Homo sapiens: one gene and its partner. The protein of the gene in region 2 interacts with the protein of the main gene of each other region in a biochemical or structural test. Each region holds a gene or a part of one and is shown on either strand. Other genes may lie near its edges.

The links. Proteins that work in one complex are often made in the same cells at the same time.
Region 1: the proteins of ACSL4 (region 2) and CARM1 form a complex in vitro, tested with the Homo sapiens proteins (one study listed by BioGRID).

The regions. Positions count from the first base shown.
Region 1 is NC_000019.10:10,902,538-10,909,567, reverse strand, and holds part of CARM1 (histone-arginine methyltransferase CARM1), read right to left. Parts: intron 4,618-7,030; coding exon 4,492-4,617; intron 1,530-4,491; coding exon 1,423-1,529; intron 1,019-1,422; exon of another isoform or gene 774-1,018; intron 466-773; coding exon 361-465; intron 1-360. UniProt on the Homo sapiens protein: Methylates (mono- and asymmetric dimethylation) the guanidino nitrogens of arginyl residues in several proteins involved in DNA packaging, transcription regulation, pre-mRNA splicing, and mRNA stability.
Region 2 is NC_000023.11:109,674,243-109,681,272, forward strand, and holds part of ACSL4 (long-chain-fatty-acid--CoA ligase 4), read right to left. Parts: coding exon 7,024-7,030; intron 6,895-7,023; coding exon 6,756-6,894; intron 4,174-6,755; coding exon 4,023-4,173; intron 3,870-4,022; coding exon 3,746-3,869; intron 232-3,745; coding exon 160-231; intron 1-159. UniProt on the Homo sapiens protein: Catalyzes the conversion of long-chain fatty acids to their active form acyl-CoA for both synthesis of cellular lipids, and degradation via beta-oxidation. Preferentially activates arachidonate and eicosapentaenoate as substrates.

The DNA.
Region 1 (7,030 bases), on a different chromosome or scaffold from region 2:
GAGACGGGGTTTCATCGTGTTAGCCAGGATGGTCTCGATCTCCTGACCTTGTGACCCGCCCGCCTGGGCGTCCCAAAGTGCTGGGATTACAGGCGTGAGCCACCGCGCCTGGCCTTGTTTATTTGTTTTTTTTTAAGAGACAAGAGTCTCGCTCTGTCGCCCAGGCTGGAGTGCAGTGGCAGAATCATAGCTTACTGCAGCCTCAAACTCATGGACTGAAGCGATCCTCCTGCCTCAGCCTCTGCAGTAACTGAGATAAATGCATTTCTAATCTGAGAAAATTAAAGATAAAATCAATGAGCAAAGAAAAAAAAAACCGAGACAGAAGCAGAGAGGTGGGCACATGCGCGGGCCACTCACCTTGTCCTTGAAGTCGGTGTGGTTTTGCAGGATGGCGCGCTGGTAGGTGCCTGTCCGCACGTAGTCCTGCATCATGTTCTGCTGCTGGGACAGGTAGCCATAAAACTGGAACAGAGACATACCGATGGCACGGGGCACATGGTGGCACGAGGCAGCCAAGGCCCTGGCCAGCCCTGTGATAGAGCAAGGGGCCATCTAGGGCACAAACCTCCCTCGGGAGGTCGTGCACCCTCTGCCTGGGCCCCACTAGCAGCTCCAGGAGAGGGAGCAGGAAGCCGGAGGGCAGCCCCCAGGAGGACACCGCCACTATCACTGCAGCCGATGGCAACAGCTGATGCCGCCTGGACCTGGAAGCCGCCCAGGAGAACTCAAGATTTGCCACAGGCAGGGTTCTGGCATCGGGGGCCACCTGCCTCATCTTGAGGGCCCCAAAGAAGAAGAGAAGCAGATCGAACAGAGCCCTAGAACTCAGAGCGCCAGGCAGGTGAGGTGTGGTGTCTCTCTGTAAGACAACGGGCGATCGGGAGGCAGCGTGGCACCTGGGCAGGGGCACAGACTTTGGCATCAGGCAGACCTGGCTTCCCATCTTGGCTCTGTTGCATATAGCTGTGTGACTTGGAGCAAGTCACTTAACCTCTCTGAGCCTCAGTTTTCTCATCTGTAAAATGGGGACAATAATAGCACTTACCTCCTAGCGTTGTTGGGAGGGTCCAAGTGCTTCTGTGCATGTGACAGCGCTTAGACCAGGGCCTGGCATGCAGGGAGCGCTCAGGGCATTGTAACTGCTCTACCGTTATTCACAACGCCTGTGGCCCTGAGCTCCACCTGTGCTCAGATCCTTCCAGCAACCCTCTCAGGCAGGCACCTGCATCTCCGCTTCACAGATGAGGAAACTGAGGCCCAGCCAGCAGAGGAAACCTGCCCAAGGCTACATGGCCAGTAAGGGACAGAGCCAGGACGGGAACTTGGGTGGGCCTTCCCTGTGCTGTGTGGCCTCCTGCGGGTGAGTGGCAGGGGGGCTGCCGGGGGGAGGCGGCCTGGCTGAGGGGGAGTACAACCCACCTGGAAGTACTGCACGGCAGAAGACTCCTCCGTCCGCTCGCTGAACACAGACCGCTCCAGGGTGTGGCCCCGGCAGGTTTTCAGGATGTTGTAGAAGGAACAGAAATCTGGAACAGGGAAGCCAAGTCACCGGGGGGCGGTCAGCAACCCAGCATGTGGCCATCTGGGAGGGAAGGTTCTGGATGGCCGTATGTCCTGACGTTTCTCCCTTGAACATACAGGGCTGGTGATTTCTCTTCCCCGAAAAACAATTTTCAAAGTTCAAAGAAAAGATGAAGGGCAGCCATGCCTGCACTGTGGTGACTGACATGAGAAGAGGGCAGGTAGCCTGCATGTGGGGCTGCTGTCTGGTGGGAGTGGGCCTGGGGATTCCTCACCAAAGGGCAGCTTGGTGAAGCTCTCTCAAGCACACGCCCACCGGCCCAGGAGTCAAAGCTCTGGCAAATAAGCCCAAGTCCACCCAGAAGCTCAGGGCAGCATCTGTGTGGGGGCAGCAGACACTGCAATGTCCAGTAAGAGGGGACTGGACAAATGCCAGGGGCACAGAAAAGCACAGTAGAGGCCAGGTGCAGTGGCTCATGCCTGTAATCCCAGCACTTTGGGAGGCTGAGGTGGGAGGCTGAGGTGGGCAGATCAGCTGTCAGGAGTTCCAGACCAGCCTGAGCAACATAACAAGACCCTGCCTCGTTAAAAAACAAAAACAAAAACATGAAATAAAAAATTAAGAAAAGCATGGCAGAGAATCACCAATCACCACCCTTCCCAGAGATGCAATGGTATGTGGCCCTTTAAAGCAGGCTCTATCTATTTGGCTGGGGACAGTGGTTCTCAACTGTAATCCCAGCACATTGGGAGGCTGAGGCGGGTGGACTGCTTGAGCCCAGTTTAAGAGGCCAGCCTGGGCAACATAGCAAGACCCTGTCTCTACAAGAAATAATAAGCCGGGCACGGTGGCTTATGCCTGTAATCCTAGCACTTTGGGAGGCTGAGGCGAGTGGATCACTTGAGGTCAGGAGTTCGAGACCAGCCTGGCCAACATGGTGAAACCCTGTCTCTATTAAAAATACAGAAATTAGCCAGGGGTGGTGGCGGGCACCTGTAATCCCAGCTACTCAGGAGGCTGAGGTGGGAGAATCACTTGAACCCGGGAGGTGGAGGTTGCAGTGAGCCAAGATTGTGTGACTGCACTCCAGCCTGGGCAACAGAGTGAGACTCTGTCTCAAAATAAAATAAAATAAAATAAAATAAAATAAAATAAAATAAAATAAAATAAAATAAAATAAAGCTATATTTATTAACATAGAATAATAGCCACTAAATTATATCAAGTAAAAAACAAAACAATATTTAAAAGACAATCTCTTTAAAAATTAAAAGACACGGTCAGGCATGGTTGCTCACGCATGTAATCCTAGCACTTTGGGAGGCGGAGGCAGGCGGATTACCTGAGGTCAGGAGTTCAAGACCAGCCTGGCCAACATGGTGAAACCCCCGTCTCTACTAAAAATACAAAAAATTATCTGGGTACAGTGGCACGTGCCTGTAATCCCGGCTACTCAGGGCGCTGAGGCAGGAGAATCGCTTGAACCTGGGAGATGGAGGTTGCGGTGAGCCGAGATCGCGCCACTGCACTCCAGCACTCCAGCCTGGGTGACAGAGCGAGACTCCGTCTCAAAAACAATGAAAAGACACAGTTCGGGATGAGCAAGTTCTGGAGATGGGCGGTAGTGACAGTTGCACAACAATGTTAATGTGCTGCTTGCTACCAACCTACACACTTCAAAAGGGTTAAAATGATCACATTTTGTTATGTAGATTTTAGCACAACTTTTAAAAACTGACAGAACTGAAATAAAAAATATTAAAATACAAATAGTCTTAAGAGTGGGAACGGCCGGGTGCAGTGGCTCATGCCTGTAATCCCAGCACGTTGGGAGGCTGAGGCGGGTGGATCACTTGAGGCCAGGAGTTTGAGACCAGCCTGGGCAATATGAAAAACTCCATGTCTACTATATTAAAAACACAAAAATTAGCCAGGCACGGTGGCACACACGTGTAGTCCCAGCTACGCGGGAGGCTGAGGCATAAGAATCGCCTTGAACCCGGGAGGTGGAGGTTGCAGTGAGCTAAGATAGCACCACTGAACTCCAGCCTGGGCAACAGAGTGACACTCTTTCTCAAAAAAAAAAAAAAAAAAAAAAAAGGGGCCGGGCACGGTGGCTCACATCTGTAATCCCAGCACTTTGGGAGGCTGAGGCAGGTGGCTCACTTGAGGCCAGGAGTTCAAGACCAGCCTGGGCAACACAGTGAAAACCCATCTCTACAAAAAATTAGCCAGGCATGGCAGCTTCACACAGCTGGCCCCGAGGGCTCAGGCTGCCCAAGGTACATCTGGGTCACTGCACAGCTACCTTGAGACAAGGGGGAGGCCGGCAGTGGCTCATGGGCACGCAGCCTCTCCACCTCCAGCTGTCCTCGCACCAGCACCTGTGTCAACCACTGGACTCACTTCAGGTCTCTGGTAACCAAGCCTGCGGTGGGACCTTCAGACCATCTCCAGCCCTGGGCATTCCTGGACACCTCTCTGCTACCCTGGCTGCATCCACCTGGGGTTCTCCCACCCCTAGTCAGGAATCTTGTGTCCACCTGTGCCCCCAAGGTGGGTTGGTTAAGCCCTTCTGGTGGCTTCTCTGCGCCCTGAGCAAACTCTTCCTGCCTCTAGGACCTCGCCTCACTCCATCCACAGCTGGCCCAGTCACAGCTGGCCCAGGGCTGGCCACTGCCAGAAAGACTGGTCCCAGGTGGTCAGGATGGGCCTCTTGGAGGTGGGGACATAGAAGCCAAGCCCCAAAAGACCCGGAGGAGCCGGTGAGGGAGGGTCTGGGATCCAGGGTCTGCCCAGGCCAGAGTGTATTCTGGGCATACCTGCATGTGGGAATGTGGTTTTGAGGGCAGTGGAGCCTTCTTAAGGATGCACGGGCCACCCCTCAGCCAGGCTCTACGCCCCTGCCCACCAGGGCTCTGGGCGCTTTGGGCTGGTGTCACCGGAATGGAAGGAGGGCCACGTACCGTTGGGTGTGGCGAACTGGATGAGGACGCTGTTGCAGCCCAGGGTGATGATGAAGGACTGCTTGCCCACACGGCTGCACTCTGTCTCTCGGGACACTGAGCACTTAAAGACACACACATCTTCATCTACGAGAGAAGACAGGCTGGCGTGAGCGGTGCAGCCCTGTCAGCTGCCTTCTTTTGAGCCTGGGTCCCTGTCGCCCTCCTGCTGCCTCCCCTTGGTGCCCCCAGATTCTTCCAGAGTGCCACAAAACCACCCTGGCAGCATTGCCGGGTGCCCTGACTGCCCAGCCCACATGGAAGACAAGGGAGCGACTGATCAGACAGCAGGAACACAGCCTGTGTCCTCAGGATGATCAGGGCTGAGACGGGCATGGTGAAGGCTGAGGTGGGCAGACAGGGCCACAAGGCATGGTGCTGGCCCACAGGAACTCAGAGCTGGAGCTGCCTCTGCCCTGCTCGGCTGAGCCCTTCTGTTCTTGGATGGGCGCAGAGCAGTGACTGCATGTGGCCAGTGGAGTCAGACCGCTGGGTTCACACCCCATCCATGCCATTTGTTCACTGTGACACAGGCATGTCCCTCAGCCTCTCTGGAACTGGGGTTCTCACCATCAGATGGGGCTAATGGCGGGGCAGTGGTCTAGTGAATTAGGACACTGTCTCCCTGTACCCATCATGATAGCTGTTACCAGTCATTCATTCCACAAACCTGCAGCCACTCCACTCCAGCCAAATGGTGAAACTTAGCGATGCCAGGAACGGGCCAGCCCAATCAGGCACTGTGCCCCTGCCTGCCATACTGCAGTGGGACAGGTGCATCATCTGTAGTATTCTTGGCAAAAATGTTTGCCCTAGTCTCATCTTCAAGGGACAACAGAAAAGGACAAGTTGTGGGGCAGGCTACAGGACAACCAGCCTGGTCTCCTTGAACAGGCCAATGTCAGGAAAGACCAAAACGGTGGGAGCTATTCCAGAGTGCAGGAGACAAGAAAGAGGGGAGTGCCCAATGCAATGCAAAGTGGGACCCTGGGCTGGAGCCAAACGAAAAATGTTTTTAAAAGTTATACAGGACAACTGGGGAGGCTGGGCCCACACCTCTAATCCCAGCACTTTGGGAGGCCAAGGCAGGAGGATCACTTGAACCCAGGAGCTGGAGATCAGCCTGGGCAGCATAGCAAGACCCCATCTCTACAAAAAAATTTAAAAATTAGGCAGGCATGGTGGCATGCGCCTGTTGTCTTAGGGACTCAGGAGGCTGAGGCTACAGTGAGTCATGACTGTGCCACTGCATTCCAGCCTGGGTGACAGAGCAAGACCTTGTCTCAAAAAAATAAATAAAGGACAACTGGGGAGCTGGACAGAGTGGCTCACACCTGTGGTCCTAGCTACTTGGGAGGCTGAGGTGGGAGGATCGCTTGAGCCCAGGAGGTTGAGGCTGTAGTGAGGTATGATGGTGCCACTGCACTCTAGTCTAGGCAACAGACGTGAGATCCTATTAAAAAAAAAAAAAAAGACAACTAGGGAAATGTGAGTGTGGACTACATATTCCATAATTTTAAGTTATTTGGATGTGACAATGGTATTGTGGTTTTGTAGAGAAATGCATATTTTCTTAGAAAACATATGCGGAAGTATTTATGGCAAATTCCCATGATGTCAGTAGCTTGCTTTTGAATAGCCCATCATAACAACAACAACATGAGTGCAAATATGGCAAAGTGTTCTCAATCACCCTGAATAGCCAAAACAGTCTTGAAAAAGAATGAAGTTGGAGGATTCCCATGTCTCAATTTCAAATTTTACTACGAAGGTACAGTAATGAAAACAGTGTAGTGGTACTGGCAAAAGAAAGGAGACACAGATCAATGGAACAGAATCAGAGTCCAGAAATAAACCCTTATACTTATCCTCAATTGATTTTTGATAAGGATGCCAAGAACATTCAATGGGGAAAGAATAGTGTCTTCAACAAACACTGTTGAGAAAACTGGATAACCACAGAGAAAAGAATGAAGTTAAACCCCTACCTCACACCATATACAAACAAAACAGAACTCAAATGGAGCAATGACCTAAATATAAGAGCTAAAACAAGAAAACTCTTAGGAGAACTATTTGCAAATCATCTATTGTTAAGTATTTAGTGTCCAGAATATATAAAAAACTATTTTAGGGTCAGGCATGGTGGCTGACACCTGTAATCCCAGTACTTTGGGAGTCAGGCAGATTACTAGAACCCAGGAGTTTGAGACCAGCCTGGGCAACATGGTGAAATCCCGTCTCTACTAAAAATATAAAAATATTAGTCGGTGTAGTGGCATGCGCCTGTAGTCCCAATTACTTGGGAGGCTGAGGTGGGAGAATCACCTGAGCCCAGGAAGTTGACACTGCAGTGAGCAGAGATGGCAACGCTGCACTCTAGCCTGGGTGACAAGAATAAGAGCATGTCTCAAAAAAAAAAAAAAAAAGTCTGGGCACAGTGGCTCACGCCTGTAATCCCAGCACTTTGGGAGGGCAAGATGGGTGGATCACGAGGTCA
Region 2 (7,030 bases):
ACCTAAGATTTTAATGAACACATTTGCTGTGATTTCAACAAGGTAAAATTATTTTAAAATGTAGACATATCTAAGAGTATTACTTTTTAAAAGGTCCAAGTACGATCAATAAATTATATAAACAATCCTCTTATGTTCATATTCATATTCTGTACTCACCGGAACAGCAGCCATAAGTGTGGGCTTCAGTACAGTACAGTCTCCTTTGCTTCCTTTTTTAATTTTGCTGGACTATATTAAAGAAAAAATAAATATGATCAGGAAAACCAACCTTAAAACATGTTGTAATTCAAGTATTAATAACAAATACAGAAGTTACACTTGGAATTTGAGCTTTTATTGCTCTGTGATTATCTGTTAACAACTATCATAACCTACAAGTCTCAAATGTAAGTATTTTAGTGCTACAGATAACTGCTTCTAGCACATTTCACCTTCCTTAGAGGAGAAACCTTGATCCAGGATAACAAGAGAATGACATTGTGATGAATCAAACATTCTTATTAATAACATACTATCAAATATAGCACAGACTATTACTACATTTTCAAAAAAACTTGATTAAGACAGATATAACACTAAAACAAAATTGAAGGTGATTTTAACTTTCTTTGATTAACAATAGGCAAAGCCACATCCTGAAGACACCACTATGAACATCAATTAACATCATACTGAAACTCTAATTTGGTAATATTCTAGTTGGTAAGATACTGAGAACACTGCCAGGGACAAAGTAGAGATACACATAAATGTGCACAAATGGCCATATAGAGGATGGTTCTCCCGATAGAACTAAGTTGCCTTTCTCCTACTTTTCTTTAATATGGATAAAGGAGATAAAATAACTCATTTTACATATGTGCAAGGATGTGCACATTTGCAAGTGGAAACCTACACAGAAACCATGTACACCACACACAGGAGGGCTGCTCTGCAGAAACAAAATGGGCTCTCATGTCCTTCAGGTCGGAGTTGCCCTCTGCATGCTACTGACCAGCTCTTGCTACAGAGAGCAGTTCCAGGATAGCAGAAGCCACAAGAAGCCCTTCTTTGTTTTTTTTACTCTTAGTAATTTTATCAGTTATTTTGTCTTCTTGTGATCATAGTAATCCTGGTTATGACAATATTGCTATCATCAGTTGGCTCCAAATGTGGTGCTTCTAGTCTCCTGCATCCTTCTGATTTCCTATGTGAAGCAAGTTCCAGTGTTTTAGATTCCTAGTAAGATTGAGAGTCTTTACAGTAAAGTTCATTTAAAAAGTAGGTGTGAATTTTACTGAACAGGCTTCTAATGTACTAGCTTAGCCTAAGAGACAGCAAGAATTAAGTCAGACCAGCAACAGACTCCAACTGTCCCTCCTTTCCCACACTGAGGCTATTGTTCTCAGAAAGGCAGTGAAAAATCAAAGAACGGCTAGTCCTGGCTTCCAAATTCACAAAGGGAAAAAAAAATTATACTCAAAGTTTACTGAAATGTTTTCTACATTTTGATAATGTCTCTGAGCATAAGAAAAACCCATGACAACAAAACATAATGATCAGAGATTTTACTAAATTTGTTTTAGAGTTTAAGCCTTAGTCTTATTGATAGGTCTACTTTGATTTCACCAGGTCAAGTTCTGCTATCAATCGGATAGTGTATTTATTCATACCATTACTATTCTAGCAGATTTTAAGTGTGAATTTATAGCTGAGTGGTATAGTCAAACACAGCAGCACCCTGTCATACAAAGATTGTGTTTCTTAAAGTACAAAGCTAGGAGTTGTTTGGAACAGAATGCGTTCTCACAGAAAAAGCCACTTTAAAAGAAGGCTGGATTCTTCCTTCAAAGAGAATCCAATGTGGTAATGACCAGGAGGGGACCCAAGGGACATTCACGGGTGCTGAAAATGTTCTTTGTTTTCCTAATCTAGACGGTGATGATCACAGAGGTCTATATGTGTATATGCTTATTAAATCTCATCAAGCAGTACACTTAATATTTGTGCACTTTAAGTCATATATCAAAAAAAAAAAAAACACAAAGGTGATTGGAATCTCAAGTCCAAAAAAAACTATTTAACTTTTTTTGTTTTAATAGTATACAACCTATCTAGCCTCTCCCTAAAATGGTATTTCTACAAATAAAGTATTACAATTTCTAACTGTGAACACTGAGGACGTATCTTACCAACTACATGCTCCATGGAGACTCTCAAACAAAAGGCAGCATTGCCTGGTGGGGGGCGGTCTGAAAAACAACAGCTGGGCCCCCAGTGTTGGAGGAGCAGAGCCACGTATAGACAAGTCATTCCTACCTATACTTGCTTTGTCTTTCAGCATCCAGAACCCCACAGCTTCTTTAGTGGCTCTTTTTTTTTTTCCCCTAAGCCTGGTTGAAGCTTTTCTACAGCAACTATTCCAAAGAAGACATAAAACAGAACTGTGGACAATAGTATTAGGTGTGTAATTTCAAATGGGTATAACATATATGAGTTAGCCCCACCCATTGTTGGGATTTCTGCTATGAACTACAGAGAGAAGGAAGAATCCTAACTTAGTATGGTGAGCTGAGACTACCTTTGGAGATGCCTCAGCCCCTACCAATAGAACTTTCTGTGATGATAAAAATATTCTTTATCTTTGCTGCCTAATATGGTAGCCGTTGGTCACACGTAGCTATTGAGAGCTTGAAATGTGGCTAAAGCAAATAAAAAAATTTTTTTCAATTTTACTTAATTTTTTTTTTTTTGAGACGGAGTCTCGCTCTGTCGCCCAGGCTGGAGTGCAGTGGCGCGATCTTGGCTCACTGCAAGCTCCACCTCCCAGGTTCACGCCATTCTCCTGCCTCAGCCTCCCGAGTAGCTGGGACTACAGGCGCCCACCACCTCGCCCAGCTAATTCTTTTGTATTTTTTTAGTAGAGACGGGGTTTCACCATGTTAGCCAGGATGGTCTCAATCTCCTGACCTTGTGATCCACCCGCCTCGGCCTCCCAAAGTGCTGGGATTACAGGCATGAGCCACCGCGCCCGGCCCTTAATTTTTATTTAAATATCTGCCTAGTGGCTACTGTATCAGACGGTACTGCTCTAGAAAAATCTCGGGAAAACTGGGCCAAGACCCTAACATATCTCCTCCCAGAAACCCACCAATGCTCATGGGTAGTGTGTCAAAAAGGCTCATTGCATTTATATTCTCTATCGTAGTTCTCAAGAGTAAAAATCTAGTAGAAAAAGATAAAAGTAATTATTCATTTTTAAATAATTTTAAGGCTGGGCACAGTGGCTCACATCTGTAATCCCAGCACTTTGGGAGGCCGAGGCGGACAGATCACTGGAGGTCAGGAGTTCGAGACTAGCCTGGCCAACATGGCGAAACCCCATCTCTACTAAAAATACAAAAAAAATAGCAGGGCATGGTGGCGGGCGCCTGCAATCCCAGCTACTCTAGAGGCTGAGGCAGGAGAATCGCTTGAACCCGAGAGGCAAAGGTTGCAGTGAGCCAAGATCATACCATTGCACTCCAGTCTGGGTGACAGAGCAAAAGAAAAGAAAAAAAAAATAATTTTAAAATATATAGCTAAAGCAATGCTAACAAATCTACAGGGTAATCTCCTATAGCTACATATTGTTCATGGAAGCTATTTTGAGGTCAAGGAGAAAGCTTTAGCTGAATTAAAATATCTCGAGTCCTAGTAATATGTTCTCAGCCAAACCATGCAGCATCATACGATCATGCCAATATACTGAAAAGTTTGTCACCTGGTCAGAGAGTGTAAGCGGAGAAGAATATCCAATCCTGCAGCCATAGGTAAAGCAAGATATCTCTGCTGTCAGTTCTAGCACATGAGCCAAAGGCAAGTAGCCAATATATGTGTCCTTCGGTCTAAAACAAAATAAGAGAAATATTTTAACCATTCTTGAAAAGGCATTTGAAGTTAGAAATACCAAGAGCTTTATCATTTTAATATAGATTGAGTTTAGAGAATGCTGAACATGAACTCTGATTTCTAAGAAGAAAGTTAAAGAATTATCTTACCCCAGTCCAGGTATTCTTTCACACTGGCCTGTCATTCCAGCTATCAAATTGCTATGATGCATCATCACTCCCTTAGGTCGGCCAGTAGAACCACTAGTATACATAACAATGGCCATGTCTGAAGGCGTTGGTCTACTTGGAGGAATGCCCACTAAATGAATGAATGAAAAATATCACATTTACTTCAGTTCAAAAGTTAAATTACTAAAGAATAATAGGATATTTAGATTTTGCATAACGATAAGCTATCAATAGACAGTATTTGCTTTAAATCATCAAAACGAGCTGGGTGAGGTGGCTCATGCCTGTAATCCTAGTACTTTGAGAGGCCAAGGTGGGAGGATCACTTGAGCCCTGGATTTCGAGACCAGCCTGGCCAACATGGCAAGACTCTGTCGCTACAAAAACTAAAAAAGTTAGCCGGATGCAGTGGCATGCACCTGCAGTCCTTGCTACTCAAGAAGATAAGGCAGGAGGACTGGGTGAGCCTAGCAGGTTGAGGCTATGGTGAGCTATGGTCATACCATTGTGCTCCAGCCTGGGCTAGAAAACAAAAATGTTTATCAAATTCTGATTACAGTGAGCATTTTGGACTCAATTTGGCCCATTTTCTGGATGTTTAACCTAATCTCTGTCTGTGCATTGCCTCTCCACAGTGTTGTATACAGAGCAATGTTGTGGAAAGATTTCTGGGACTTTGGAGTATCAGGAGGACAGAGTATGTGTATAAACTTCTTAGGCCTCAGTTTCTCATCTCTAAAATAAGACAGCTGGACAGATTGTGGTTACTAACCACTAGTGGGTATCAGAATCACGTGCAGAACTTAAATAAAATATTATTTCTGAACCCCCTTTCTGAAAATTCAGATTCAATATGTCTGGGATAGAACAAAGCTCCACAAGTGATTCTCATATATGCCCCTGATTGAAAACCACTGGATCTGATCTTTAAGGTGACTTCAATGCTAACATTTGAAGGTGATAAGTTTTAAACAGAACCCTGGAGCTTCCACTTTCAAGACAGTGTATAGTGCTAGCCTAGTAACCACTTTTCCTTCCGAGAATATACCAAAATGGCTAAGAAGCCACATATATATCATCAGAATGAAATACAAGTTTAACAGGATTATCACATTTAAAAATCTTTACACAAATTATTTACATTTTTATATACCAGTTAAAATAACATTTTTTTAAAACAGTGAGCTATACCACTGAAACAAAGATAGTTACACTTAAACTGGCTAATTTTAATGCTTTTTAAAGATATAGTCATAGTTTATAAACCAAGCAAATAAGGACTGCATATTTCCTCTGATGATTAACCAAAGCAACAGCAGTAGCTAAATTCTTCTTAATCTAAGCACATGTGATACTTTGCTTCTGCCCACTTTTAAGTAAATATGCAAAAAAGTGGCATCACAATAACTGTCTGTACCACAAAAACATATGTATCCTATCTATTGCAGACATGAGTAGAACTAAGTGGGATATGTGGCCTATTACATTATTGCTCACACAAAATTATGAAGACTGCTGACCCCTTAGCTTGCTGCCAACACCCTTTGTGGTCAATCAGCAGAACTGTAACTGATCCCTACCAATCAGGACTTCTCAGTCAAGTTTATCCCAATCTTACAGGGTCAACCTAGTGTAGAAAAACAATTCTCTATGGGTCTCATGTTCTGCACATCTTGCAAGCAGAGACATTGACTTTGTTCCAGACTATCTTTACAAGGATATTTGCACAGAGATAGTGTCTCTCCCCAGAGCAAACAGCAGGCATGCTTACTGTCCAGTACAATAAGATAATAAGATATTCAGGCTCTTTAAGCTCAGAGTTCCTCTCTTATGACACAAATGCTGATATGATACTCTGGCTACTGCTATTGTTGTGAGTAAAAAACTGTCCCTCATCTCAGACCCAAAAGTCTATGGCACCAGGAAGTTTTGCAGGCTCATCTGTTTGCCGGCAAGCAGGGTAAAATCTGACTCTCTGCCATTCTGGACACATGGCAGATGTGTATAATAACACCTGTTATTATAAACGCATGCTCATTCTCTAATGGTAAAATGTTCAGAAGCTGAGTAGAGGTTCGACCAACATTTTCTCCTGCAAAAATGAATCCTTTTCTCATTATAGTATGGTATTTTGACCATCGCATTAAACATAATAAGAAAACTCTTCAAATGGAGTATTAATTTCCTCAACTCTCTGCCCTGATGGCCAACTGACATTTTGCTACAAGGTACACTTACTTGTTTCAAATGAAATACCAACTACCACCTCAGTGGTAAAATAAATCCAAGCATTAATCTTGGTAAACAGCTTTGCATCCTCTGAAACATCCTTAAGATAACTAGCATTAAGCATTTATTTCAGAAAGTTTACTGAATGGAAGGCCTGAAATATTTTTCTTTTATGAGGCCCAAATTGGAAGGTTATAGTGGGTTATTTAAAAAATGAAGAAACATTTGGCAGCAACTGCCATGAAGTCTGAACCACAGATTACATCTCAACCACTTAGTGAAATTTACTAACTTATTTTTTTTGAGGAGAAATGGAGGGAAAATCTTAATCATATATGGTCTTGATGGTTTTTAAAGATTTTTGAACTTTTTTTTTTCAGTCAAAGAACTTTTGTGGATTTACTCATGTCATTTGTTTCCCTAACCTACCAAAATAACAAACTTGGAATAGGTAAATAAAATTGTTTTTACTGCTTTACTTACAGTTTTCTGGGTTAGATCCCAACTCTTCTACTGATTGCATGCTGTGAATCTCAAATCCTTCAGGGTACTCTGCTTTATTGATAGCCTTATTGTCCACATAAATGATATGTTTAACACAACTGATATCTAACAATGCAGTCTGTTGAGCAGAAAGAAAAAAAAACAGCTATTAAACTTAAGCCTGCAACAAAAATTCACTTACTGAATGAATATTTTTCTGTCCTGCCAGACAACGCAACCATGAATTAAAAGAAAATTTCATATTTACCTTAAGT